Linked DNA regions of Homo sapiens. The protein of the gene in region 2 purifies or fractionates together with the protein of the main gene of each other region. This does not show direct contact. Each region holds a gene or a part of one and is shown on either strand. Other genes may lie near its edges. The genes, in order: KLHL23 and PLS3.

Region 1 (15,696 bases), on a different chromosome or scaffold from region 2:
TAATTCTACCCATGTGTAGTCTACAATAAAATCAGCATTTTCTATTTCCAGTCCATTTTTAGCCATCCTTTATGCTACTAAACTACATCACAACATACACTATTTGAGACAGTATTTTTGTTACCTGGATGTGGACTGGAGGTGATGAGGCTCCATTCGTTGATATCGGAATTGTAGCTCTGAACTTTGTCATAGGTGCAGCTTCCTCTGTAGCCACAGTGGCCACCAATGACGTAGATAACATCATGTAAGACACAGGCAGTAGCATTTCCCACACCTACGTATTAATTAAAATCACATCTTTAGATTGATCTTTTGTTCTTTTTTGCAGTGAACCCTGGGCTAAATTTATTGTTGTTTTTGTTATTACTGATGGTAAAATGCAAGGTACTGTGCTAAGTGCTATAAGGGACAAAAGAATAAAAAAGGAAGGCTCTTTGTGCTCTTAAGAGAGGGTGAGACGTGCACACAAACACAGCCATGCACCACGCACAATGATCTCCATAAAATTATAATGGAGTGGAAAATGTCCTATCACCTAGTGATACTGTGGTAGCTGTTTTAAAGACATGGCATAAAGCATTCTCATGTGTTTCTGGTGATGCTGTTGTAAATAAATCTACGCCTCTGGCAGGTCCTTCAAGAGGTATTCCAGAAGAAGGCATTATTATCATAGGAGAGGATAGCTCTATGCCTGTTATTGCCCTTGAAAGCCTGCAAGTGGGACAAGATGTGGAGGTGGAAGACAGTGATATTGATGACTCTGACATTGATGATCCTGACCCTGTATAGGCCTCAGCTAATGTGTATGTCTGTGTCTTACTTTTTTAACAAAAAAGTTTAACGAGTAAAAAAATCAATAAATAAGTTATATATATATATATATATATATATAATATAAAAAAGCTTATAGAGGCCGGGCGCAGTGGCTCACGCCTGTAATCCCAGCACTTTGGGAGGTCAAGGTGGGTGGATCACGAGGTCAGGAGATTGAGACCATCCTGGCTAACACGGTGAAACCCCGTCTCTACTAAAAATACAAAAAATTAGCAGGACGTGGTGGTGGGCGCCTGTAGTCCTAGCTACTCGGGAGGCTGAGGCAGGAGAATGGCGTGAACCCAGGAGACTGAGCTTGCAGTGAGCCAAGACAGTGCCACTGCACTCCAGCCTGGGTGACAGAGCGAGACTCCGTCTCAAAAAAAAAAAAAGCTTATAGAATAAGGATAAAAAGAAAGTATTTTTATAAGCTATATAAAGTCTACAGTAATGCCTGTAATTCCAGAAGTTTAGGAGGCTGAGGCAGGGGATCACTTGAGCCCAGGAGGAGTTTGAGACCAGCTTGGACTACAAAGTGAGACCACATCTCTACAAAAAATAAAAAAGTAGCCACGTGTGATAGCATGTGCCTGTAGTCCCAGCTACTCGGGAGGCTGAGGTGGGAGGATTGCTTGATCTCAGGAGGTCAAGGCTGCAGTGAGCTATGTTTACATCACCGCAGTCCAGCGTACGTGTCAGAGCAAGACCCTGTCTCAAAAAAAGTAAAAAGTCTACAGTAGTGTACAGTAATGTCCTAGGCCTTCACAATCCCTCCCCACTTACTCACCGACTCAACCAGAACAACTTCCAGTCCTGCAAGCTCCATTCATGGTAAGTGCCCCAAATAGGTCTACCATTTTTATCTTTTATGCTGTATTTTTACTGTACTGTTTCTATGTTTAGATACACAAAGACTTACCATTGTGTTATACTGCTTAGAATATTCAGTATAGTAACATGCTGTACAGGTCTGAAGCCTAGGAGTAACAGGCTATACCACACAGCCTAGGTGTGTATTAGGCTGTAGAATTAGTATGGTATAGCCTGTTGTTTAAGTATAACGTTCACATGACAAAATTGCCTAATCACACATTTCTCAGAACATATCCCCATTGTTAAGTGGCACATGGCTGTAATTAGAACACTAGATATAAAATGGAAGAAACACCATGAAAAAAGGGACAGATGAACTGCTGGGCATGGTCAGGGCAAGAAAACACTGCATTTGACGAGGGAAATCACAGCAGGTGGTGGTGGAATTTGACCTGGGTGATGGTAGGAAGTTGGCAAGTATAGATGAGAGGAGGCCATTCTAGACAGAGGGAAAAGCCAGTGCAAAGGCTTACTGGACAATGTTAAGTAGCCCAGTTTGACCAGGGCAGGTGGCACATTGAGGGTTGTTGCATGGGACTTTAAGGCTGGCATGGTAAGTTGAAGCCATGTAGCAAAGGATACTTACTGATGCCCAACAAAGAATCTGGATTTAATTCAGCCAGATTTTAAAGGTTTTTAAACAGAGGAATAGAGCAACTAACAAAGGAAGAACAGGTACCAGAAAGATCTAGTTACTGGCCAGGGTGGGCGGTCTCGAGGGCCTGATTTTGAAGGGGCTTTGGGTATGGAGGGAAGAGCATAGAGGAAAGAGACAGGTAAAACACACAGGTCTTGATGACTGACTGACGCAGAGGCAAACCAAACCGATTTTGAGGTCCTGAGCTGGAAAAACTGGAATCACTGATGCCAAAACAAGGAGGGGTGGGGGAAGTCGAGGAGGGGAAGGAGAGGGAGGGGAAGGAGGAGGAGGAAGAAGAAGGCAGAAGGAGGGAGAGGAGATGGGGGAGGGGAAGGGGAGGAGGGGGAGGGGGAGGGGAAGGGGGAGGAGAGGGAGGAGGGGGAGGAGAGGGAAGGAGGAGGAAGAAAGAGGAAGATAGGCGAAACATGAAAGGGAGATAGGGAGGAGAGGGAGGGGAAGGGGGAAGAGAGGGGAGGGTGAGGAAGGGGAGGGGGAGGAGGGGGAGGAAATAGGTTTGGAGGGAAGATGAAGAAAGGAAGAAAGATGATGAGGATCATTTTAGTTGAAAACGTTGGTTTTGTCTTTCCACTAACTTTTACCTAGCACCATTTTGCATGATACAGTTCAATCTTCTTGTTCCTTTCTATTCCAAAATAAAAGTGGATTTATAAGTAGAGCAGTTATGATGGAAAAAAATAAAGATTCAGGAGTTCCTAAACAGCCAAGTATTTATTTATTCTCTGTACATTAGTGAACTTAATTTGGGTCCAGGACCAAAAAAAGGTAATAAATTTTAAATTTGACTGTACCCAAATTAAGTTTATTACCAGAGAAAGCTGCTATTTCACTTCAAGGCTACAAAATAAAACGAATTGAAAAAAATGTTATCCTTTCTACCAAAAAATGGGAATCTAAAAGTTCAGTATGGCTGGGTGTGGTGGTTCACACCTATAATCCCCGCACTTTGGGAGGCCAAGGTAGGAGAATCATTTGAGGCCAGGGGTTCAAGACCAGCCTGGGCAACATAGTGAGACCCCCCGCCATTTCTAGTTTTAAAAATTAAAAATAAAATTTTAAAAATTGTTTAAAAAAAGTTCTGTATGAGTCCACCCACCAAAACAAGCAGTAGTCAAAACTGCACATAACTGGCAGTGTTACCTCTCCCTGGGATGACTAGATATAAACAAGAATCAAAGCTTTGAGTTCAAAGTATAAAACTGGAATTTCAGACCCAGTTAGCAGGTGAGGGAGGACTTTGAGGTATGAGGGTCTCCTACTCCACTCAAGGTTAACGCAAGCATGCATATGGCTTTTGTTTCACAGTAGATACACCATCGCAGCATATCTTTTTTCAACAAGCACTGTTCTAAATATAAATTTTTAAAATTTCAGTAAAGTAATAAGCTTTCATTCTCAAAGAAATATACTCTGAACCCACCCTTGTAATCCCAGCACTTTGGGAGGCCAAGGTGGGGGGATCACTTGAGGTCAGGAGTTCAAGACCAGCCTGGCCAACATGGTGAAACCCCGTCTCTACTAAAAATACAAAAATTACCTAGGTGTGGTGGCACATGCCTGTAATCCCAGCTACTCAGGAGGCTGAGGCAGGAGAACTGCTTGAACCCGGGAGGCAGAGGTTGCAGTGAGCCAAGATCACGCCACTGCATTCCAGCCTGGGAGACAGAGTGAGACTCCATCTCAAAAAAAAAAAAAGAAAAAGAAAAAGAAATATACTCTGAACCACAAAACCATTGAAACTGTTATATCATCCTTAAAAAACAGAATCAGAAATGTATGCTAGTTTACAATAGCTCCTTAAATATATGGACTTTTCTTATTTCTTTTGCAGAAGAGGGGTCAGGACATTCAGAGCCCTCCTGGAATCGGCAAGTAGTGGTGAGACTCAGGCAAAGACAAAAACCAGGGGAGCAACAGCACCGGGCTTTCTGCTACCTTCTCCCACCCTGGTGTGACAGTGGTCACAACTTCACATGAAATCAATTTCTGCTCTATAAGAGCTGACATGTCCTTCAATACCGACATTCAGGACAATCATGCGTAACATTTATAGCATGCTTACTCTGTGTCAGACACTGTTCTAGGCACTTCACAAGCATAGATTAATTTAATCCTCTCAATGATCCGAGACTAGGTAATATTGTCATCCCCATTATACAGATGACAAAACGGGGGCACAGGGTGATTAAACAATTTGCCAGAGCTCATCAGCAAGTAAGAGGAAAGCAGGGATCTGGATGCAGGCAGTTTAGCTTCAGAGGCAGCGTGCCTGATCCCAAGACTGTTCTGCCTCTCAGCTTCCTGCCTGTCATCCAAGGATCATACCAGGTCAGATTTCCAGACCAGGTCAAATTCCCACACTCTCACTAGCATTAAAAAAGAAACAGAAAAGCCTGGGAAGAAACATTTGGGACAAAATGATACAAATTTGGTAACGACCTACCAGTTGTTTTTGTACAACTCCTCAGCACCAATGAATAAATACAATGAAATAAGATTCCCGTTTAACTTTTTTTCCAGTGGGAGAGAAGGAGAGCAAGGCAAACAAATCGCCAAACACAGCAGAAAATAGTGTTTATCAGACAGATACCGAGACCCAGGGGTGTGCCGGGTTCTGTGGGCCACATGAGGGAGAGTATGGTGTCTGCCCCTCTCAGAGAGGACTGAATTGCAAAAGCAGACGTTGTCTCTAGTTCCTGGAAGAATGTACTTTGTTACATCCTGTAGGGACCAAACCTTCCAAGGTTTTAATGAAGGACCTCTTGAGAGCTGATCAGCGTATTTTGAGAGGAAAAAGTTGAATAGCAGAATTTTAAAGGGTTCAATTTTAAGAACATGAAAAAATGAAAAACTGTCCAGATTTGTCTCTTCATCTAGCCCTTGACTTGAATATAAATTCTCATAACTCTCAGACAAGTTGGGAACTATGCTATACTGTTTTTATCTGGAACATTCTGTGTAGCATTATTTGTATAATTAACTATAGTTCCTAGATAGCATCCCAAAGTGATAAATTCAAGAGAAGTGAGACTGCTGGCCTAGCTCCAGACATCTAAAAAATACAAAATAAACATAATCTCCACTTACCTTTAATCATGTTTGCAATAGGAATCCATTTCTCTTTTAAAGGATCATAGAACTCAGCCTCTTCTGCTGGAGCCCCTTTTCTGTAACCACCTAAAGCATAGACACAGCCACCCAAGGTGACTGCACAGTGGTAATACCTGGCATTGAGCATTGGCAAACCTTCTGTCCATTCATCACTTTCACTGTTATAGATCCACACTGTGTCAAGAGCTTCTATGTTATCCGTCCTGTAGCCCCCAGTTACATAAATGTTGGGTCCTAAACATGTAACACCATAGCTCTCCCTGGTATAATCTGGTATTTCTGCTCCCTGAATCCAAACATTTGTCAAAGGATCCCATATGTGAACCTCTGATAAAGGATGCCAGTAATAGCCTCCAATTATATACATTGTGGCTGTGGACCTCTGGGAAATCTCTTTATGCATGGGATTCAAGGCATTGTATATTAGGGAGCGGATCTTATTTTCGGTGAGCAGGCAGCTTCTTTGAAGGCCTAAGGCTGTTTTTAAGTACACTGGATCTATATCAATGTTGATATAGCTCAGTAGATTATAGAGGCATTCAATTCGATTTTCTACATCATGAGCAGTCCACTTAATAACTGGCTCTATGATAGCTTCTTCTTTCCAAACACTGAGATTCTTTCTGGACAAGATAAAGAGAAACTTTTCAAGGCTGATTTCCAGAAATTCTTCTTGTTGCCACACTTCCTTAAACTTTGAACATAGAATTCTTCGAGATTCCTTCTCTAGTTCTGGACACACATGAAATTCTGCAAAGGAGTGCATTCCAATACAATTATCAATATCCAAGTGCCTTACCAAAAACCGCTCACAAGCCTTCTTTACTGAAAGGAACTGTAGCAGATCCGCTGCCTCAAGCAGGCTTTGAACATTTCTTTTAGTTATTTCAATTTGGGAAGTGTATGCATAATTTACAAGGCCTTCCAGAATATCATGGTGGATGCCAGAGAGTTTTATTTTATTTTTAAATTTTTCTTTCATGTCAGCTGTGAACATTGCCTTAAAATAATTGCTGCAAGCAGCTAAAACGGCTCGGTGACAATGGAAAATTATGCCTGAAGGACACTGAAGAGTAATATCAGTAAATAATCCATCCAAGTAAAATGTTCTGAATGCATCCAGAAAATCCACTGGATGTGTTGAATCCTTGAAAAGATAAATATAATCTTCTTGTCCTTTTAGAGCCATGGCTGCAATAAATATGAAATAACAAATGTGTTTTCAATGTTGCACATTCTCTCAAATAATCAACGCTAAATAACTTGACTATCATCGGATATACTCCAAAACTGGACTAAGTTCAGCATCTAAATAATAAATGCAAAATGTGGATGGACTGTTTGATCATTTATATGGTGGTCAATTTAAATTCAGGGTAGCTCGGAGCTTGAAATGAGGCTCCTGGATTTTTCAGTAGTCCTTTTGAGAGTACTGATTTGCTATTCCATTCACCGCAATCTACCCTGGCCTGGCGTTCGGAGATGAGATCCCACACTAGGCAAGGCAAGTGTCCGAGGGTCACCCCACTCGAGGCCGGACCTCAGCTGTCTCGGCTCGGCCCCAATTCAACCTTTTCCCCAAGCTCGTCTCCCTTTCAAATCACATCGAAATGCCAAGAAAGGGATGATGGAAATATAAATGGACAAGAAGAGGTCTCGGAAAAGGGAAATCCCGAGCCCTTTCGCTTAAGGAAGGAGAGAAAGGAAGGCAGCTCGGCGCAGCCCTTGCAGCCCTCGCCCCCTCCCCCGCGCCCGCCGCAGGGGTTTCCGCGCGCCCCGCGCCTGGGCCCCGGCCCACGTTCCCGCCCGGAGACCGCCCCGCCCCGGGGCCAGGAGCGGGGCTGGACTCGAGGGCGCCGCGTGCCGCCCGCGGGCCCGGTGCCCGCGTCCCTCTGCCCGGCGCTCCGCGCAGGTGTGGGAAGGACGCCGCAGGCAGCCCCAGCGCAACGCGTTCGGCCCGGCCCGGCGCCCGCGCGGCCATTGTCTGCGCTCCTCTCCCGCGCGGCCTCGCTGCCCGCGCCCGGCCCCGCTGCCCGCGCCCGGCCCCGCTCCCCGCGCCCGGCCCCGCTCGCTCCCAGCAGGCCGGCCTCGGGCTGCGGGTCCACACCGCACCTACCTCCCGCCGGGGCTCGGGACGCGGCGCTGGCCCGCGGGCTAGTAGCGAGCGGGAGCGGGGACGCCTCCGGCCCCTCTGACCATCTTTGGAAGAGGCGCTCGGAAGCCGCCAGCTAGTGCCGCTCCACCCCACAAGCAGCTCCTATTTTGGTGTCCCGGCGGCTCCCCCGCCTCCACCCGAACAGCCCCCCGCACGGTCTGGGCGCGAGGCCACTCGCGGGAACTCCCCCGTCGCCGGGCCGTGCGGCGAGCGGGGCGGGGCGTGCAGGCGTGAGCACGGCTCGGCCCCTCCCCAGCGGCGCCCCCCACAGCAGGTGGGACTGCTTCCCCAGGAGACAGCGCGCGCCGCCGCCTTCCCCTTCCTTGGCTCGCTCTCTGTCCCGCGCGCTCTCTCACACCCGGTCGAGCGTCTTCTCTTAGATAAACTCTGAGTCCTGAATTATTAATAACACCATATATGAGTGTGTGTGTGTGTGTGTGTGTGTGCGCGCGCGCGCGTGTGCATGTGTGTACACTCCCCTCCCTCAGTAGGCTTCGCCAGCCCAGACTCAATCGTGAGGACAGAGAAGGGGGAAAGAGTGGAGAGAATGGGGCACAACTAAAGGTCAGGGATTGGAGGCGCCGTTGAAATGCCAGAAGTAGCCGGCCTTTCCCACAAACGCCATCCCACCCCCAGCAAAGCACTCAGGAGGGCGCCTTGGTGCTGGTGAGCACATCAGGGGTTAAGCTGAAGCTTTGAGAGAAACTTTGGGCAGCCGGGGCCAAGGCGAAGTCCAGGCGAAGTCCAGTCGTGCTAAGATTCAGGTTATTGTATTTAGAGCATAGCAGCTGGAAGGAGCAGCCTTTCTGGTGACGGCCACTCTAGTCACAGATGTCTATGTGGTACACAAAGTTCATTTTCTTGTTCCAACTAAAGCCAGTATCAAATATTTTTGTATATCATTCATTCATTCATTCGCAAGATTTTATTAAGTGCTTCTAGTGCCTGATAGGGATAGACACTAGTAGTGATAAGAGTGTTGACAGATGGTCCCTAGCTCACAGGGACCTTCACCACCACCAGAGGACCATGTGTTTCCCAGAGTATGGTCTCAGAAACGCAATATACATGAATGGCCAGATAGTATGTGACAACAGAACTCTGAACCACATAAGAAGCCCAGGAAGCCAGACCACAACCTTGGTAGCAGCTGAACCAGAACAGTCAGGAAGTAGTCAACGACTGGCAATTTCCCTATTTTTTTTCTTTTTTGAGACAGGGTCTTGCTATGTTGCCCAGCCTGGAATGTAGTCGCACGATCTTAGCTCACTGCAGCCTCGATCTCCTGGTCTCAAGAGATCCTCTGCCTCAACCTCCCAAGTACCTACGACTACAGATGTGCAATTTTTGAAAAATTTTAAATATTTTTTCATGACAGGGTCTCACTATGTTGCCCAGGCTGGTCTCAAACTCCTGGACTCAAGCGATCTTCCTGCCTGGGACTTCCAAAGTGCAACTTCCCTATTTTTACCCCTAGTTCCACCTCTGCACCAACCAGAGAAAGCCAAATATGTTCCGCAAACCCATCACATAAAATACCCCCGCTTCTAGTAGCCCACCTGCAGCTTTCCCATGCCAACAACTTCCAATCAGAGCATACCGGGGGCTTTTCTTCACTTCTATAAAGCTTTCCCACTCGTCTGCCCCACCTTTGAGCCTCTGACAAAGTGATGGTGAGTGGGACTCCCTTCTACAGCAAACTCTGAATAAATAGCATCTGTTGGTTCTCCTGTGGGTGGGTTTTAGTTTAATTCCACAAGTCAGATCATCTTAATTGAATTATGTAAGATGCTGGTTATGCAGCCCCCACAACTACCACACCCCACGCACAGACGTCTGCGGGGTGGAGACCTAGGGATCTGCATTCTAATCAAGGGCAGCAGGTGATTCTTATGGACAAATAAGAGAATGTGTTGGACCCAAAAGGAAGAAGGATGAAAGTTTAACATCCCAACATCTGGTAAACAGTATAGTTAGAAAAGGAAAGCATATGAGATTTAGTTTCGGGCTTAAGGCTCATCTCTGCCACTTATCCAACATATAGCCTCTCACAAATTACTAAACTTCTCTGATCCTTCGTCTTCAGATCTGTAAAACACAGACAACATGGATACTTTCTCAACCTAACCTAAGGTTATTGGAAAGACAAATTAATAATGAAGCACTTAGGACTTGATATATAAATGTTAGCTACTATAATGAAAGAATATTTACACTTAATTCTGCATCACAACCTTAATTTGGAAATTAGCATCTTCTTAACATTTCTTCAGAAATTATGAACTTCATAGTTAATAGTAATTATAGCTTGCCCTTCATAACTGATAGTGATGCTGTTGTCACTGTTGCCATTCAAGGACACAATTGTGACTGATTGAAGGAGACTTCTCTCCATTTTTGTCACTGAAGTGTAGAGATGGCTGTTTTTGCAGCTATAATTACTGTTTGCCAAGTTTGATGTATAAAAAAATATAGGCTCCATCTAACTTGGAGTAAGGGCTTCTGGAATCATAACTACATGTAATAATAAATGATTCATGAATAATAGAATTCACTATATTCTCATTTATGCAGTTATTTCAGATGGCTGCATGAACCAACTAAAACTCTTGCTTTCATTTCGTGATGTTCCCTGGTTGTGAATTACTACTTAAAAGTGTATATCAGTGTATATTACATATTAGACTATTATACTGCTTCACTTTGCTAAGAGAAGAGCAGGTCCTGAAGGGTATTGCCTGGCATAGTTCCTCTTTACCATGTGCTTATCAAAGAGACCATTGCAAATGCTGATAGATTTGATGCATTCAGAAACATATAATTAGCATTCATAAATCAAATAAATTAATGATACCGTTCAAGAAAACAGATGTGCCATCTGTGGTTCCAAGTCTTAAAGAAATAAAGTGCTGCCATGGAAATGAGACATAAATGATTTGGCAGATACTAAGCTTGGCATGGAGTTAGATGACTTATTGACATCACACTTCAGCTTTCAAAGGACTCCGAGTTCTAAAAATAATGATTTTATTTATAATTTTTACCTTATTAGTACATCTTTCCACTAAGTACAGCCATGCCATTAAATGTTTGATATGCTGTGATATCATTAACAATGTGTGTAGATGATGGGCATAGATAGAACATTTTGTATACTTCATTTACATACTGGATTAAACAAGTTGCTGCCAAGTTAAAAAAAAAAAAAAAAGGCCAGGCCCATTGGCTCACGCCTGTAATCCCAGCACTTTGGGAGACCGAGGCAGGCAGATCATGAGGTCAGGAGTTTAAGACCATCCTGACCAACATGGTGAAACCCCATCTCTACTAAAAATACAAAAATTAGCCAGGTGTGGTGGTATACGCCTATAATCCCAGCCACTCAGGAGGCTGAGGCAGGAGAATCTCTTGAACCTGGGAGGCGGAGGTTACAGTGAGCCAAGATTGCGCCATAGCACTCCAGCCTGGGCGACAGAGTGAGACTCCGTCTCAAAATAAAAAACAATAGTAGGTAAAATGTATAAGGCTACCACATACAGCTTTGCAAATTGTGCACTGCACAATTCCAGCTCATGCAACTTAAGTAGAGTACAGTGTAAACACTGCTCTCAGGAGTTGTATAGTACACAACCAACGCAGGTATCTGTGGCTGCCCTGCAGCCGATGTGTCTTGGTAAAACCTTTTTTGGTATGTTTCCTGTAAAATAAGAAAGTGAACATTCTAATAACTAGGTAAAAATGCTTTTGCAAGTCACAGGTTTCCAATTCCTGGTTTCCAGCAAAAGTGAAAGAGGATTTTTGGCAAATAATTTGGAGGGAATGACAAAATGAATGGCATTACTATAAAAAAGGTTTTTTGTTTGTTTTTTTTTTTTTGAGACGGAGTCTTACTCTGTCACCCAGGCTGGAGTGCAATGGTGTAATCTTGGCTCACTGCAACTGCTGCCTCCCAGGTTCAAGAGATTCTCCTCCCTCAGCCTCCTGATTAGCTGGACTATAGGTGCATGCTACCACGCCCAGTTCATTTTTGTATTTTTAGTAGAGATGGGGTTTTGCCATGTTGGCTAGGCTGGTCTTGAACTCCTGACCTCAGGTGATCCACCTGTCTCAGCCTCCCGAAGTGCTGGGATTACAGGCATGAGCCATCGCGCCCGGCCACTATGATAAAATTTATCTCATTCTTACCTATTTGTCTCTGTGAACATGTTTTCTCAGCGATTATGTCTATAGAAATGTTAAGCAGGAACATTATTGAACCTAAATACTGTCTCATTCCAGCAGTAAGCACTACTTGACTTCATACTCTAAATGAAAGTAGCCCTATTCATCAGATTGAAATAATTTTTAATAATTTTTTACTTTTGATTTAAACATATTTATGTTTAATTAATTATAATAATAATTATAATATTAATTAGACCAGGATTTGTAAAATAACCAAAGATATAAAACCATCAAGGACATACAAATTGTAATTTATACACATTTTTGTCACAGAGAAGGTTAAGAGATTAATAAAAGATATTCAGTATAAAACCATACAGAAAAGTCTTTCTTTTTTTTGGCCTGGCCAAAAATGCTTTCTTTGAATGGTTCCAATATGTATGAATTTTAGTTACCATGGTTTAGTTAAATAACACCTGTCCCCTGAGAACAAGGTTTCAAATTTCAGTTACTGAAGTAAATTAACTCTGAGTAACTGCATAAAATACAAATTTGCTGCTAGCTCCTCAGGTCCATGAATTACTACATTAACAAATGCGCATCCTGATCAGTGACCAATCATGTATCTTCTTTCAAAGTCTGTCAGTGATTGATCTCTGTGCATCTGTCAGTTCACATACAGACAGTAAGGCTTGCAGTTGCATTGTCTCCTTGTCTGCTAGTAAAAAACCCATGTGACATTTTACAAAAATGGGTGATTGAGAAAGGGTATTGACCAACAAGGATGAAAGTATGGCATGGAAATAAAAAGTGACAATACCGCAAATAAAATGTGAAATGGCTGGGCATGGTGGCTTACGCCTGTAATTCCAGCACTTTGGGAGGCCAAGGTAGGCGGATCACCTGAGGTCAGGAGTTCGAGACCAGCCTGGCCAACATGGTGAAACCCTGTGTCTACTAAAAATACAAAAACTAGCCAGGCGTAGTGGTGGGTGCCTGTAATCCCAGCTACTCAGAGACTGAGGCAGGAGAATCACTTGAACCTGGGAGGCGGAGGTTGCAGTGAGCCAAGATTGTGCCATTGCACTTCGGCCTGGGTGACAAGAGCAAAACTCCGTCTAAAAAAATCAACAAAAAAAAAGTGAAATGAACACAATGAGGTTATAGAGGAAATAGCTGACCATGGGAATGTTTACACTACCACCATTGGAGAGAATTCAGATATGCAGCCAGGGAACTTAGTGCAGGTGAACTCATGACATAAGTGAGTCACCTTATGTCTCAAAGGAAGTGATCCTGGCAAAAAACTTCACATTAAAGGAACTCTTGGAGATATTTCACCACATCGAAAATGCAAAGGATAACACATTGGAAGTTGATCCAAACGTAAAACTATGACAGTCCATCAAGGCGTAGAAAGATGAGTACGCCAAATCATAAGTTTTATGACAAGAAGGCAAGAAACTAAGCGAACTACTATTGTTAAGTGTTTACAAAGAAACATAACACTTTATCAATGTTTCTAATGTTTTAAATTGCAGTATACTAAGTAAATATCAGTCTTACCATGTTCTTTATTTCCCTATACATTTTAACGAATAGTAAGAGAGTTCATAATGTTGTGACAAAAAAATGTAAAGGTCATAGGACAATCATAATTTTTCCCATTGATTATTTAGATCACATTATACATTTTCAACTTGTACAGTTATTTTGAAGGTCCTGTATTATTGTGCAAAGTGAGGACTGCCTGTATTTTCAGTGGGACAACCTTCTCTAAGAGAAGTAGAATGGAAGTACGAACTCAAGAAGAAAGAAGACTGAGAACTAAATTTTAAAAATGAGAAAATAAAAACTTCCAATAGTTTTTTTTTCTGAACTCCATGTCTCCTGATTCACAATACAGACGCAGCACAGGGCCTGGGCTGAGGTATATGTGGGGTCGGTTTACTCTGCCTCCTGTTTCTATACAGTCAGCGTAAGAACACAGACCATGGTAAGTACTAGGAAGCCAAAAATTTCCCACTTTTAAAGAACAACTTGTTTATGTATTTTTAAATGAATGACAGTGGTTTTGAACGGCTATATTTAGTTTTTACTAAATAGATTTAAAAGTATTATTTAACAGTCATTATTTATAACATGTTAGAAATTACAACCTTGGCAAATATTTAAACTTGTGATGAAAAGTTTCCAATATCGATTTAAAAATATGGAAGTGAGTACATAGTTTTTCAAACTTATTAGATTTGAAAGACCACTGATCTGGTCCCAAAACAGGAATTAGCCTATTACTGTTTGAGGGAGTATTATTACTATTTAAAAGATAGCAGTTTATTTGAGAATATGTTTCTGTGCCACAGAGCTCAATCCCAGATAAAATTAATACAAGACAGAAGGATAATAAACTAGGGCTTTTTCCATTATAAGCGATGGAGAAAGAATACAAGTAAGAGCATTGGCTCAACTAACCCAAGAAAGACTGATATTATTCTATAAGTCAGAGATTAAAGCTCGCCAAAGACTTCCTGGCTCATTCAGTAAAAGCCAGAGTACTTATAACAGGCTCCTGGATCCCCACATCCAGCTCTGCTTTGCCTCTCACCAGGAGGCGGTGCCTCAGGGCTTTCTCCGGGCTTTGCTACTAGCTATTCCTTTCGCCTGGACTGCTCTTTTCCCAGCTACCACTACAGGACTGGCTCTCTCACCTCCATTAGGATTTTTTTTTTTAATTTTCTTTTTTTTTTTTTTGAGACAGAGTCTTGCTCTGTCACCCAGGCTGGAGTACAATGGTGTGATATCAGCTCACTGCAACCTCTGCCTCCCAGGTTCAAGTGATTCTCCTGCCTAGGCCTCCCGAGTAGCTGGGATTACAGGTACATGCCACCACACCCAGCTAATTGTTGTATTTTAGTAGAGATAGGGTTTTGCCATGTTGGTCAGGCTGGTCTCGAACATGTGACCTCCAGTGATCCTCCCACTTCGGCCTCCGAGAGTGCTGGGATTACAGGCATGAGCCACTGCACCCTGCCTTTTTAAAATTTTTGTGGGTTCATAGTACGTGTATATATTTATAGGGTACGTGAGATACTTTGATGCAGACATGCAATGTGTAATAATCACATCATGGTAAATGGGGTATCCATCACCTCAAGCATCTATCCTTTGTGTTACAAACAATCCAATTATACTCTTTTAGTTATTTGAAAATGTATAATTATTATTGGCTATAGTCACCCTGTTGTGCTAGCAAATACTAGGTCCTATTTATTCTTTTAAACTAGTTTTTGTACCAATTAAACATCCCCACAGTCCCCCACTACCCTTCCCAGCCCCTGGTAAACTTCCTTCTACTTTCTATCTCAATTGTTTTAATTTTTAGCTCCCACAAATAAGTGAGAACATGTGATGTTTGTCTTTCTGTGCCTGGCTTATTTCACTTAATATAATGACATTCCAGTTCTATCCATGTTGCTGCGAATGACAGGATCTCGTTCTTTTTTACAGCTGAATAGTACTTCATTGTGTATATGTACCATGTTTTCTTTATCCATTCATCTATAGATAGACACTTAGGTTACTTCCAAATCTTGGCTATTGTGAACAATGGTGCAACAAACATGAGAGTGCAGATGTCTCTTTAATGTACTGATTTCTTTCTTTTGGGTATATACCCAGCAGCAGTACCCAGCAGCAGGATTGCTGGATCACACGGTAGTTCTATTTTTAAGAGTTTTTAAAGAAAGGGTCTTTCTCTTTCACCCAAGCTGGAGAGCAATGGCATGATTACAGCTAACTTCAGCCTCGACTATAGCCTCGGGCGATTTTCCCTGATTCTCCCACCTCAGCCTCCCAGGTAGCTGAAACTAAAGGCATGCACCACCATACCTGGCTAATTTTTGTATTTTTAGTAGAGACA
Region 2 (15,260 bases):
CAACTTGGAATTAGTGAAATAAATTATGAAACAGCCATTATATAAAATATACTGCAGTGATTTTAAACATTTTTAAAAATATTTGATCACTTGGAAACATGTTTATAATGTAATAAATGAAAAGAATGGGATATAGTGTTATTCCAATTTTTAAAAATTTCTCTTCCTACATATAAAATAAACATAAAAATATGAGCATTTAAAATTATAGTTACCTTGAATTTTTCTAATCCAAAGCAAAGTGATTGAAAACATCTTTAAAGTACACACTACACAAGACACTTTCCCAGTAGATTAATTCATACATGTTGAATAGTATAGCAATAGGATGTGCTCTAGGGACAATTTCGTATCATTTTCACCTCTGAGCAAACTCTTTGCACCCTATAATGGTGATTCTTCCTGATCTGAAACACAAGCCCCAAAATGTTAAAATGAACAACAAGAAATGGCAAAAATGGGAACATTCAAGCAAGTTAAGAAATATAGAAAAAAAGCTTGAAAATTACATTCATCTATGAATGAAAGCGTTATTTTCAGTGTCAACAGCAGAATGTCAATCTGAGTGCAACACGATGTAATTAGAGCTTATAATGTGGAACACAATAATATGAATATTCAAAACTATTATACGGCCCTAACAAATTTTATTTTACAGAAAGTAAAAACTTATATTATATATCACGTAAAACTTTATATAATATACATATGCACACATAAGTGTATATATACTCGTGTGTGTATGAATATCACAACTCAAGGGAATCAGACTTGTATTTTCAATGAACTGGACAGAGTATGAATGGGCGACAGAGTGAGAACCTGACTCAAAAAAAAAAAAAAAAAAAAGAAGAAGAAAAGAAAAGAAAATCCAAGTTAATAGCTTTGAAGGTGTTTATTTTTCAACTTAACTTCCCACATTTTCTGTTTTTTTTTGTTTGTTTGTTTGTTTTTCTGTTTTTCTTTTGAGATGGGGTCTCACTCGGTAGCCCAGGCTTGGAGTGCAATGGCGCAATCTCGGCTCACTGTAACCTCCGCCTCCCAGGCTCAAGCAATCCTCCCACCTCAGCCTCTTGGGTAGCTGGGACTACAAGCCCGTGCCACCGTGCTTGGCTAAGTTTTTGTATTTTAGTAGAGACGGGGTTTCACCATGTTGGCTAGGCTGGTCTCCTGGCCTGAAGTGATCCACCCACCTCGGCCTCCCAAAGTGTTGGGATGACAGATGTGAGCCACCGTGCCAGGCCATTTTTTGTGTTATTCATGGCATGCTACTTAAATGTATAGATTATCTCTTCCACTATGCAGTTTCCCAGACCTGCGTGTTGTCCTCCTTTAGACTGCAATTATGAGGAGGAAAAACTTGATTTTTTATGAGGTTTTTTACACGAAACCTCCCATTATGGGCAATCACAAAACTAAAAATGAGGTATGGTAAGCCAATGGACTCTGTAACAATTACCACTGAAGACCAAAATTCTACTCAGTAGTTAGTTAAAAAGGGGAAAAACACCACCCAATTAATGGCTTTAACGGGCTACCTTGCACAATATTTGAGGTAAGAAATAGAAGAAAGTATCACATGGGCTGGGCGCGGTGGCTCATGCCTGTAATCCCAGCACTCTGGGAGGCCAAGGCGGGCGGATCACAAGGTCAGGAATTCTAGACCAGCCTGACCAACATGGTGAAACCCCATTTCTACTAAAAATACAAAAATTAGCCAGGCGTGGTGGTACGCGCCTGTAATCCCAGCTACTCAGGAGGCTGAGGCACGAGAATCACTTGAACCCGGAGGCAGAGGTTGCAGTGGGCTGAGATCACGCCATTGCATTCCAGCCTGGGCGACAGAGCGAGACTCCATCTCAAAACAAAACAAAACAAAACGGGCCGGGCGCGGTGGCTCACGCCTGTAATCCCAGCACTTTGGGAGGCCGAGGCGGGCGGATCACGAGGTCAGGAGATCGAGACCACGGTGAAACCCCGTCTCTACTAAAAATACAAAAAAACTAGCTGGGCACAGTGGCGGGCGCCTGTAGTCCCAGCTACTCGGGAGGCTGAGGCAGGAGAATGGCCTGAACCCGGGAGGAGGAGCTTGCAGTGAGCCGAGATCACGGCCGCTGCACCACTCCAGCCTGGGCGACAAAGCAAGACTCCGTCTTTAAAACAAAACAAAACAGAACAAAACAAAAGAAGAAGAAGAAAGTATCACATGTAGGTTTTTATTCTATTGTTATCAACCTAGTCTCTTATTTTTCATTATAATATGTCTGGCTTTATTTTTCCTTTGCTTGTAAAAATTGGATGGGTGCAGAACTTTTACAGACAAAGAAAAATGTGGCAAGACTTACGTGATGAGAACCCTGCCATTTCTGTAAACTCTTGTTAAAGCTTTAGTGTTTCTATGATACACTGCTGCAGTACTTTGAATTTATATAGCACCTGTCTGCTTAAAAGCCAAGGCTTCACGTTTCTCACTTATCCTTTTACCATGCCTGTGAAATATGTAGATTGGAATCACATGGCTTAAAAATAAAGTGAAACCCAGATATGACCACAGAAAATTTCAATGAGTTACTTAAGATCATCTATCTGTCCAGACTGCAAAGGACTAAAAGACCCTAAATTCTATGCTCAATGCTTTTCCAATAAACAACACTACCTCCTTATTATCAAATACGTTTCTAAACTTTTAAGAAAATGTAAGGTTTCTCATATTATAAAATCAGTAGGCTTAATGCACCAAAAATCCCTGTCAAGGAATTAAATAAATGGCACCTCTTTATTTTAAAGAACTAACATTAGTCATGGAATAACCCACTGGTGATCACTTTCCTGAATAGTCATCAATTTGCCAACAAAGTATTTAGCTTGGATCAATGCAATTGCATCAAAGTTTGAAAAGTCAACTGATAAGTGAAATAAGCCAGATTATGAATATTTGAAAAAATAAAACCCAGCAAACCAAAAAGCTTGAGCAATCCTCTCTTTTTATAAACAAAAGCATGAATGGTGTCTGGCACATGTATGTACTCAATTAGTTATTAATATAATAATTTTAAATGACTTTCCGAAGGTCAAATTATGAGTCAATGGCAGAGCACTATCTAGAATCTAATTCCTCTGAGGGCAAGTTCAATGATTTACTTAAGATAATCTATCTGTCCAGACTGCAAAGGACTAAAAGACCCATGCTAAAATAATTAGTATTTTCATTTTTGTATACTAACAATACTTCTTCATCCCTAAAACAGTTTATACTCACTAATATTTATCTTCCAAGTGTCAAGACTAAGGCAAAATTTGGTATTATTAAATTTATCGTGAATCTTCTGAAATTGTCTCACCTCCGTAACTAAAATAAATTGGCCCAAGTATGATCAGATCTTCTAAGACTGACATTTCACGATTAGACTGTTTCCATAACTTTAACCAAAGCGCTCTCATAACTAAAATCAGCTAGTCATGACCACTGGTATATAAAAATCTTCCAACATTGTAATGTATCCAAAAAGCTTTGAAACCTCCAACACACTGAATATACATTATATGGTATATCACTGTCTAAAATAATACAGACTCAAAACATGACCCAGCTGACTTCTTCTAAATGAGTTGTATTATTTTCACAGATCAAAAATTTTGCCTTCTGGATCACTCTTCACCAAAAGAAAAATTGCCATATGACCAAAGACAACATGATTCTAAAAACAGATACCCCATTGTTGTCATGTATTGAGAGATATTCATTTTCAAATTTTATTTTATACCAGCTACTTTCATAATCTGTACCAAACATCAAAAAAGAAACAGTTCAGCTTATACATTCCACATAGATTATGCTAGATCAAACACAACAGCAAACTCATGAATTTATCATATGTGCTAAGAACACTGTCAGTACATTTCATGAAAATCCAAGTAGAAATAATGCCTAAAACAGAATATGGGATAATGGCAAATGGACTTTCTTCTTGTACCCTCTCAGTGTCACCAAAAAGAACCACTTTGGTGCTCAAGCACCATGGCCAAGCTGCCCTTTTATTTTCAGTAACAGAATTCTGTTCTCCTGGGAGAAAAATCTCATTGGGTTTCTGATAGTGCCCTAGATACTGACATTCTGCCAGTATAAACAGTCACAGTCAAAGTCTAATGTGCGTGTAACCACTTGTGGAAGAGGCTTAATCTCACCCAAATTATTACTCACTAGTTATAATTAATCCTTCTACCCAAAATGCCATAAGCCTAGTCATTTTTATCAATTGAATCTAAATGGTTACATCAGACTAGAGACTTTGGACTTCAATGTTGATCGTCTGTATTAAGTCAAGGCAAAGTGTTATTTATTTATTAATAGCTCCCCACCTCAGGTAAAGGGGTTGCTATCTGCTAGATCTAACAGTAAAAATCAAGAATTTGACTCCCAGCCCCCTAATTTCAATAAAAATTTGGGCTCATTAGATCATACCACCAAAAAAAGTCAGCAATATTGGGGGTGGTGTTCAATGAGTAGGCATCCCAAGACAATGAAAAGCTGTGGACTAGAGCCTAGCGATGATTCTGTTTAGACATGATTTCACAATACTTAAAAAAGAACTTATCCCCCTACCACTGTAACCTAGTTGAGTGGTAATAACTTCCTTTTTTTGAGGTTAAACATTTATTATTTCGATCTAAAATTATATTATCACCTCACTTCCACTAGAGGGGTCTATCTACCAGTGTAGTTAACTCTAGTAACTCAGGTGCACCTTAAATCCATTTCCAGCTCATCTGTGCCACAAGGCTAGCCTTGGGGTCAGAACAATGTGCTTTAAGGTTGTTCTAGTTTTCAGGCTCAGAAACGGATGAACAGCAAGAAACTGGAGTGCTCCGGTCATTCAGAGGCTGCTGCAGGAGACAAAGGGTTTTTGGCAAAAGAATACAAAGTCAGAATCTCTTAAATATCTTCTGCCCTAGTTGTTTTCAAGACTGAATATGCATCAACCAGGTCCGTTTTTTCTTTTTTTTTCAGATAAGCAAAGCTTTTAAACTCCTGACCTCAGAGGCTCCTCTGCCTCTCTTCTATACTCTGTAATATATAATCTGAATAGCCAAATTGCCACGTTTTCCCAGAAGCAACCTTAACTTGGGCCACTTGGGCGGGTATAGGTCAATATGGGAAAGTTGTTTCAGTGTCCTCTCATTATTCTACCAAACCACTGACAGGCAAAAACCCAACCAACTCGATGTATCAAATTTACTATCCACTGTTTTTGTGCATGATTTCTAATCCAGTTAATTGAAAACCACAAATAACTGGTGGTTAATTTTAGTCAAGAGGTTATTTACTACCTTTAAGTAGTTGCCTAAAATAGGGAACAGTTCAATTAGAATATAGGCCAGACCAAGGAAGATGAACAGAGCCTTACTTTTTAACACTATCTTGTGGGATTTAGCTTCAAATCTAGTATTCAGGGACAAAATGAGGCATGAGTAATAGGATGACTTCCCTAGAAAATAATTAGTAAGATGTTTTTTAAATTTAGAAAAACCATGAGATTGAAGAAGAGAGGAGATACATGTCCCAGCTCACATATATTTCAATCCCTTATTTTAAAAACAGCTCCTGTTTTTGTTTTGGATAAAAGCTGAGCACCAAATTCCCTTTCTGGTCCCCTCATCCAAAATCCTAGTAGACTTCCTTGATTAGAAGCTAGTTCACACTCCTCCCCACCTTTTTTTTTTTCAAACGTAGAGGTGGTTTTTGGAATATGGGCCTCAACCATTACATTCCAGCTTTAAAGTAAAAAGACGTCATGTGACCATCAGAGACTTGGGGCACGTGATTCCAACTGGTATGTGTGGGGCTCCAGCCACTTAGTTGGAATTCACCATGAACTGCATCTCGAGGATCAAGTTTAGGCTCCCCAGTCCATTGTGACATCCAGCAAAGTGGAGTAAGTGCTTGCCCCTCAATGGTTTTTACTTTTCCCTACATTTTCTACCTACTGTTAGCCAGGCTCCCTTCCCTCCTCCCAATCCCTCTTAACAGGCCGGGCGCCCCCAGCATCCCGTCTGTCTGACGCTAAATGGCGAGGCTCTCCAACCCACTTAGCTCCAAGCTCAACCTTCTGCAAAAGTTCAACCTTCTGCACCACTGGGGATATCGTGCAGCTCAGGTGAGAGGCAAGGAGCATCGCATAAGGCTAGAGTCAGATGCCATTAACCCCCACTCCACCTCCCGGGCTGGGATCATCTTACGTCCCGGAGCCCGGCGGTCGGAACCGCCAGCACACTGGAGCAGCGACGGCGGCAGCAACTTTGGGACTGGCGAGAAGCCAGGGCGGGGGTGGTCGGCGTCCCCGGGCCTCTCATTACAGCGCTTAAGTACTGCGGGTGGAGAAAAGTAAACACAGGCAAGTGCAGCTGTGCGGGGAAAGGGCGGGGGGGTAGACTATTACCTCCCTCCCGTCGCCCCTTTGCCTCTCCCTCTCCAAGAGTCGGGAGAGGTCCGGGACTGCCGCCGCCCCGACCGCGCGCCCGGGGCCGCAAAGTCAAAGGAGCTGAAAAAAGGACAGGGGGTGTGGGGCCAGGGGAGAACGGAAAGGTACTGTCCTACTAGCCCAGAGATGTTCTCCTACTGAAAGGAAAAAAAGTGCTTACTCATAGGGAGACTAGGTGCGTTCGCGACGCCCTCGCTAAGGACAAGGGAGGGAAGCAGGCAGAAGGCAGGCAACCCAAACCTCGTGCCTTCCCTCGGCCACGGCCCCCCCTCTCCAGAGCCCCAGGGTCGGCTTAAGCCAGCCAGGTCACCCGAGGCGGGCGTGTGGGGGCTGGAGGAGTAGCAGGCTGCTGGCTCCGGGATTTCCTGAGTCCGGGCGGGAGGGAAGAGGGGATGGCAGTAGCTGGAGAAGGACGACAGAGGGAAGTTGTGCGCTCCCTTTCCACTTCGGGGCCGCAGCCGCGGAGGGGAATCAGGGCAAGGGCTGGCGTCTAGGACTCCAGCCCAAGACTGGCAACAAGTTAAGAGCAACTAGTAAGAAAACACCACTTAATACAGTGAAGTGCAGAAAACGTGTCTGCGGCGGATGCTAGTAGGGAAACTCCCCGTCACTCACACCCATTTCGGTTGCGACCGATCGCCCGGGCGCCCGAGGGCTCCAACTGAAATTTCTCCGACCTCCCTCTCCCCCAACCCCCGCCCCACGGTGCGCCGCACGTTCCTGCTGAGCTTAACCGAGATGCTCTCCCCGGGACCCACTCCTGCCCACGCCCAGGAAACCCGCTCCCCTAGTGCCCGCCGGCGCCTACAAAGCACTTACGTAAAGTCGCAGAGTCCTGGGTCTGGCCCGACTGCCGCCGACCAACCCACTCAGACAACTTCTGCACCTCGGAATCTTTGCAGCTGTGGCTCTAAAGCCAGCGCTCCCTCCCCTCCTGCCAGCCCCCTCCGCCCCTCGGCCGCCGCCATTGGCTCGGGTGGTGCTAGCAGTCGGCCTGGGAACCAGGAAGGGGATTGGGCCACGAGCCTGTCACATCAACTGGGTGGGGATCCAGGAAAATAGGCACGGGGATGGGCACCCAGGAGGGATAGGGACTGCAACTCTGCTGCAGGGAGAGGAGAATGGTCCCCAGCGCCTGAGTCTCCCCTTCCTACTTGGGCTAAGAGGAAGTTAGAAGTCCAACGTGCCTGGCTCGGAGTACACATTCACACAATCTTGTGGGATTAATAAAAAGATGAAAAAGTTGGGAACAAGAATTTGAATGCCACCTATATAAGTCTATGGGGGAGGGGTACAGTTTCTCCCAGAATCGTGAGAAGAATAACGGCATGTTGGGGAACATTCCTAATTACATCTGCAACAATCAGTCCAGGTGCCAAAGGGTGCAGAGGGAAACATCAGCAATCATTCCTTTCCTTAAGAAGTCAAGGGAGAAGAATATGGGCAGGGCAGGGCCCTCAAGCCTTTGGCCTCATGCCAAGTAAATTGTTAGCCCACATCACCTGTCTGGTATGTTTGTCCATGCGGAGAGGGGTTGAGAGGAGGTGGTTGGAAGTACATTGGTTCCACTCTTTTGACCGGAAATGGGTATCAATTCTCATCAGTCTCCTTTCACCAGAGAAAATTTGGAGACATGTTACTACTCCCCAGACTGCCATTTCTTCTCCTTCTCTGCCCAGGAGATGGCTTCCACGTCATAGCTGACCTCTTTCATTAATACACGTGGAGGTTATCTGCATTCCAAACCTATGGTTCATCGTATATCCAAAATCAACTCAGAGAGCCAGAGTTTGAGGGATTTTGCAGGGTCAGGTCAAGAGACTGACTTGTGGGATAGCTGTAGAAGAAAAAGTCTAAGCCCTTTCCTGTTCCAGTCGTAACCATTTTGTTGAGGAAATGTGTGCTTGGAAAGTTCTGTCAACATTTAAAATTAGTTCAATTAAGTCGCATTTTACATGTACCAGGAAAAAATGCTGAGAGGCTTTAAAATGGAATGTTCTTGAAAAGGAACCCCTATTTCATCTGCCATTATGAATTTCCTTAGAGAAATTAATCCGTAGTGAGTGCCAAGGCTTCTTAAAAGGGAAGAACTTGGGGAGTTCATATATTGCCTAAAGGCTAGACTAGCAGAGGACTTGGCACGAGGAAAAAGCCTTGTTAAATATTAATTAATGATTAACCAACTGGAAGAACTTATGAAAGGCACAGGAAGGTGAAAAAGAAATGGGAGGGCAATCATGCTTTCACAAACATTGAATTTCTGTTATGGGAGATTTTCTACTGGTTCAGGTTTGGGCCAGCACAAAAATACTGATTTCAACATGTTGGCGTTGGATTGAACATGGAGCCAGTGCATTGCCACACACATTTACAGTAAGCTCCCAAATGAGATTTCTAGCATTCAGTAATTGGCCAAAGGTTTGGTGTGACTTCTGGAATTCTTTACAAAAAATTTTTAGATACAGGAAATAGGCTTTTTCAGTTTTCTACCTTTTATGGTGTCTGTCGGTCACCGCTGAAGAGCTTCCACCTGCTCTTAAACTTAAAATTACAGACTGAGCAATAGCATGAAGGGACTCTGTAAGCTAAATTTTCCAGTGCAGATATATTTGTCTCAATTACGTTGTATTCAATTTTAGTTTATTTTTCAAATTCTAGAATTTAAAGTAAAAATATTAAGAATCCTACGTATATGCTATTTACAGTTCCTGTTTTTAATTCAAAAAAGCTTACATTGGTCCGAGTAGGGTAGCTCACGCCTGTAATCCAGCACTTTGGGAGGCTGTGCAGTGGGAGGATTGCATGAGGCCAGGAGTTCAAGACCAGCCTGGACAACATAGCAAGACCTCATCTCTACAAAAAAAATTAATAAAATTTTTTAAAAGCTTAATAGAATCTATACTTTGATAAAAGTCTTCATTCACCACTATCACTGAGGATGTCAGAATTCAGTCAAGAAATGTCATTTTAATTGAAATGCAATAGTCCATAGTTTCAAAGCTGCAGTGTACCTAGCTGATGGCATTAGTTCTCATTGCCTCAGTAACTTTCCAACAGATAAAACACACCCTAAACACAGAAGCACCTATTTGGATGCTAGCTGAGATTCCTGTTTAACAAGCTCCACTATATAATCCAGGTAGAACTCCATTTTAATGAATACTATTAAGATACCCAGCCAGTTTGATGTAACTAAGCTACCTTTGTGTTGCCCAGAATCTAAAGGATCTTTTCAAATTTAGCATTTTGCTGGAAGAAAGGATCCTCAGGCTCAAAGCTCTTAAACAGCATTTCTTTATAATTTTTCATGCCATCAATTTACCTCATAGAGGATCATTCACGAAGTAACCCAAAGTTGATTGTTTTCTTATCTGTATCAAAAAGCCTGCACAGATGTTTGTCAGGGTTCCCTCCACCTGCTTATAGGCTTTAATTTATTTTGACAGTGACTTGCATAGTGCCTGACACATAGGAGTTCAGTAAATGTTTGCTGAACCAATGGTTATTTTATGTCTATTCTTGTTAAACAACAGCAACAAAAAGCTATTAATATATATAGGATTCTCACAGACCTTGTGAATCAGTAACCTAAGAGTTTTTACCTTTCCTTCCATTTCCAATTTTCGATCCTAATGCCTTTGTAATAAATCACTTAAAGTCAATATCACAAAATTTTGAAAACCATTTATTCTTCCTGTCCTCCGCTGATATCATAAGAAGGCGCCAATATCTCTCTTAGGTTTTTTGTCTGTCCAAACTACTTTTCTTTCCTCCTTTTGATACGCACATCCCCCTTTTTCTTGCTCTTTTTCCTATTGTTCTGCCCAACACTCTCCCCAGTCTAGCTCACAATGTATTATGTGTACATAGTCTAAAATTTTCCCTGAAATTTTCCTAGAGTAAGTTGTCAGTTTCCTCTTCTATCCATTTTTAATTCTTTATTCTTAACATGTCATTGCTGGTTTGAACTTTTTTTTTTTTCCTTGAGACAGAGTTTCACTGTTGTCACCTCAGCTGTAGTGCAACGGCACAGTCTCAGCTCATTGCAACCTCTGCCTCCCGGGTTCAAGCGATTCTCCTGCCTCAGCCTCCCAAGTAGCTGGTATTATAGGCACCTGCCACCACACCCGGCCGATTTTTGTTTTTTCAGTAGAGATGGGGTTTCACCATGTTGGCCAGGCTCCTCTCGAACTCCTGACCTCAGGTGATCCACCTGCCTTGGCCTCCCAAAGTGCTGGGATTACAGAGGTGAGCCACCGTGCCTGACCACTGGCTTGAACTTTTTATCCATTTTTTATTTTATTTTATTTTATTTTATTTTATTTTTTCTTCTTTTTCCTCACCCCGTCTGAGATAATTTTTATCATTTTTTTTAAAACCTCCTTTCTGTAGTCTATTAAAAAATGATTTTGCTGCATAAACTTTATATAAGCCAGGAATAACTTAAAGAATCTTGATCAGTTCAATACTAAATCATTTTTCTAACACACCTAATTGTTTTCTCAGTCTCTAAATGTAAAATTGTGTACTAATCTGTTTTAATTAATTGTATTTTATTTTATCAGATTATTTTCAAGGAATTATCCTTTTTTAAATCATCTTTTTAATTCATGGATAATTCTATTCCATGTTGTGATATTTTAGGTTCTTGGATTGATCCTAATCCCTCTTTTTATTCAGTGTGCTGTGAGATGACATTTTTATTAAAATTAAGTATGATTTTAAAGGTTTCTCTCATACTTAAAATATTTGGCATAGAGGAAATCTTGGAAGACCTGGACAATTATTAATTTTTTTTTGATCCATAGGATACAGATTTGAACAGTTATTACCACTGTTTATTAGTGGAGTGTTTTTATGTTTCCAACTCAAAATGTACACATGTATAGGACATGAATATTAATAGTGAATAGGCAATTGTCAAATATTTTTCAAACCTAAAGATTATTATGAATGTGAATGCCTGCTAATGCAGGCCAACTATCTTACACGCACATTCACATAAAGAAATTACTCTGACATGTCCAAGCTTATTTCAGATTTTCACTTGTTAAAAAAAAAATTATCAGTATCTGAGAATAAGAAAATTAAAAAATAAAAAACAAAAAATTAATTGAAGTCTCTTTAATAGGATTAGGACATATTTAATCAGTATGGACTTTATAATATGTAGATTTAACAAAGATCACTATCATCACTGGAAATGCTCAAAATTAAAGTGTCACCCTCCCCTCTCCCGACTTTCTGGGTGTTAAATATCTAATTAATCAATCAGATAACTATTATAAGCAACATAGAAAAAGTATGGTCTCAAAACACAACGAATTAATAGTCTAATATTAATTCAAGATCAAAGTCCACATAACTGTAATAATGAGAAAACAATTCAAGATAGAATATATAAGAAGCACCGTAGGTAGGCTGAAAAGAATGAGAATAATAGGGCTAAAGCAGTTGTAGAAGGCATCCTTTGTGCAATGGAACTTGAGCTAGGCTTGACAAAGATGGGTAAGACTTGATATAGGCAAGTAGAAATGAAAACCATTTTCATTCCTAGGAAGTGATAAAAGAAAAACTTCAGACAAATTAAATTTAACATAGTTTAATTGAGCAATGAACGATGGGGCAGCCACCCCAAACCAGACTAGGTGCAGAGAGACTCTGGTGCTGCCACATGTTCATAGAGAATTTATGGACAGAAAAAGAAAAGTGACATACAGAAAATGGAAGTGGGGTACAGCAATAGCTGGATTGGTTACACCTTGGCATTTGCTTTATTTGAACTCAATTTGAACAATTGGCTGCTTTTATTGGCCAAAACTCAGTAATTTTTACAAGTGAGGGTTACAGTGTGTTTACACATCTGTTTAGGTTACAGTTCACTATGTATGGAAATACTGTTTTTTTTTTTTGGCAGGGTCTCGCTCTGTCACCCAGGTTGGAGTGCAGTGGCACGATCATGGCTCACTGAAGCCTCAATTTCCCAGGCTCAGGTGATTCTCACACCGCAAGTCTCCCAAGCAGCTGGGACTACAGGCTCGTGCCACCACACCCAACTAATTTTTTTTTGTGGTAGAGACGCGGTTTTGCCATGTTGTCCAGGCTGGACTTGAACGCCTGGGCTCAAGTGATCCACCTGCCTGGGCCTCCCAAACTACTGGGATTAGAGGCCTGAGCCACCACACCCAACCAGGCTAAACTTAATTTAACATAAGAAAGCAAAATGGGAGCGCTTTAGGTAAGTTTCTGAGTTTGGGCTTTCTTTCCAGGCTTCTACTTCCTTATCTGCAAAAGAAAAACTGAGGATTTGCCTACCACAAAGGTGCAGTGATAACATCAATGGGAAGGAAGATTGCTTGGGATCTCACTAACGTAATCTTTTTAAAAGAGAAAATATATTTTTTTAACACTTACTTTAGTGATTAAAAAGACTTGTGGGCTGGGCTCATGCCTGTAATCCCAGCACTTTCGGAAGCCGAGGTGGGTAGATCACTTGAGCCCAGGAATTTGAGACCAGCCTGGGCAACATCGCAAAACCCAGTCTCTACAAAAAATACAAAAATTAGCTGGACATGGTCGTGGTACATGCCTGTAGTTCCAGCTACTTGGGAGGCTGAAGTTGGAGGATCACTTGAGGCTGGGAGGTTGAGGCTGCAGTGAGCTATGATATCACCACTGAACTCCAGCCCGGAAAGCAGAGTAAGACCCTGTTGAAAGAAGGAAAGAAAAGAAGGAAGGAAGGAAAGGAGGAAGGAAGGAAGAAAGAAAGGGAGGGAGGGAGGGAGGGAGGGAGGGAGGGAAAGAGGGAAGCAAAAGGAAGAAAGGAAAGAAAGAAAAGAAAAGAGAGAGGGGAACATCACACACCGGGGCCTGTCCTGGGGTTGGGGGAGGAGGGAGGGATAGCATTAGGAGATATACCTAACGTAAATGTAGAGTTAATGGGAGCAGCACACCAACATGGCACATGTATAGATATGTAACAAACCTGCACGTTGTGTGCATGTACACTAGAACTTAAAGCATAATAATAAAAAAAAAAGAGAGAGAAAGAGAGAGAGAGAAAGAGAAGGAGAGAGGGAGGGAGAGAGGGAAGGAGGGAAGGAAAATAAAAGAAAAGACTTGTGAATCTTTCTTGTCTTACATTAATTAAACTGCCAAGTTACAGAAGGTCTTGCTTTTAGTTACAGTAATTTTGTTTGTCTGGTTTTTTTTTTTAATTTTTTAATTTAATTTTTTTTAAGACGGAGTCTCGCTCTGTTACCCAGACTGGAGTGCAATGATGCAGTCTTGGCTCACTGCAACCTTCCGACTCCTGGGTGCAAGCGACTCTCGGGCCTCCTGAGTAGATGGGATTACAGGTGCGCCACCACACCCGGCTAATTTTTGTATTTTAGTAGAGACTGGGTTTCACCATGTTGGCCAGGCTGGTCTCAAACTCCTGATATCAAGTGATCCACCCATCTCCCAAAGTGCTGGGATTACAGGCATGAGCCACCGTGCCTGGCCAGGTTACAGTAATTTTGACAGTTGCTTTAGTTAGAGCCATAATAATCCTTCCCTCAATGAGATTTACATAATTAATTGGCACATATCACATTTTGCTTTTAAGGAAGTATTATTAATAACATGCCTGTAACTTACACAGAATTTAAGGTAGGTGAGTGCACTAGCACGTACAACTTGATGTTATCATTTTGTGTGTCTGGGCTATAAAGCATTCTTTTTGGTGAAATATTCAACCTCAACCTTTATTAGAATGTAATTTGAAATATTGGAGGCTTCCTATGAAAAAAGTCTTTTAAACATATACAAACAACCCTGCAGAATAAATTGTAGCGCACATTTTAAAATTTATAAGGGTTATCCATAATTCTCCACAGCACTAGCCAGACTTCTAAAGAAACAGTCATGTCCAGTCTATTGCGTTTAACTGATTTCTGAATATGTGAGGCCAAATTTTGGTAAATTTATGAGTGTCTACCTGCATTATGTGTGTGTGTGTGTGTGTGTGAGAGAGAGAGACAGAGAGAAAGAGAGAGAATATGATCAGATATTTAAATGCTATAACTGATTATTCTACCAAGAATGCTTATAGTTAAATATTTGGGTCTGTGTTTACTAAGTATGCAAAATAATGACTTTAAAAAGAGATTGACAGTGTGACACCGTGGATGAACCTTGAAAACATTATGCTAAGTGAAAAGAGGCCAGTAACAAAAGACCACATATTGTATGATTCCATTTATATAAAATGTACAAAAAGGGAAAAATCCATAGAGACAGAAAGTAGATTAGTGGTTGCCTAGGACTGGGGGTATGGGCAATTGGGGGGAAATGAGGAGTGACTGCTAGTAGGGTTCCTTTTTGGGGTAACGAAAATATTCTAAAATAGATTGTAGTGGCGGTTGCGTAACTATATGAATAAATTTAAAACTATCGAATTGTACAATTTTAATTGGTGATCTATATGGTATGCGAATTAGATCTGTTACTTTAGGCAAGTTAAAATTAACAGAATTTAACTGAGCAAGAAAAACAAAAACGATTCGAGAATTAGCCAGCTCCCAGAATCAGAACAGATTCAGAGATTCTGGGGCTGCCCCATGGTCAGAGGAGATTTATGGACAGAATCAGGAAAATGACATACAGAAAACAGAAGCGAGTGCAGAAACAGCTGGGCCTTTGCCTTATTTGAGCAGGGTTTGAACAGCTGGCTGCCTGTGAGTGGTTGTTTAAGTATGGCGGCTGTGATTGGCTGAGACTCAGCTATTGTTATAGAAG

What was found.
Region 1: the proteins of PLS3 (region 2) and KLHL23 purify together in Homo sapiens (affinity purification with mass spectrometry; 2 studies listed by BioGRID and IntAct, with this or other methods). This does not show direct contact.

What each region holds. Positions count from the first base shown.
Region 1 is NC_000002.12:169,725,966-169,741,661, reverse strand, and holds the start of KLHL23 (kelch-like protein 23), read right to left. Parts: upstream 7,831-15,696; 5' UTR 7,575-7,830; intron 6,650-7,574; 5' UTR 6,648-6,649; coding exon 5,435-6,647; intron 278-5,434; coding exon 125-277; intron 1-124. Other genes in the region: PHOSPHO2-KLHL23 (kelch-like protein 23), read right to left, coding at 125-277, 5,435-6,647.
Region 2 is NC_000023.11:115,553,299-115,568,558, reverse strand, and holds the start of PLS3 (plastin-3), read right to left. Parts: upstream 7,386-15,260; 5' UTR 7,299-7,385; intron 6,156-7,298; exon of another isoform or gene 6,029-6,155; intron 5,934-6,028; exon of another isoform or gene 5,828-5,933; intron 1-5,827. UniProt on the Homo sapiens protein: Actin-bundling protein.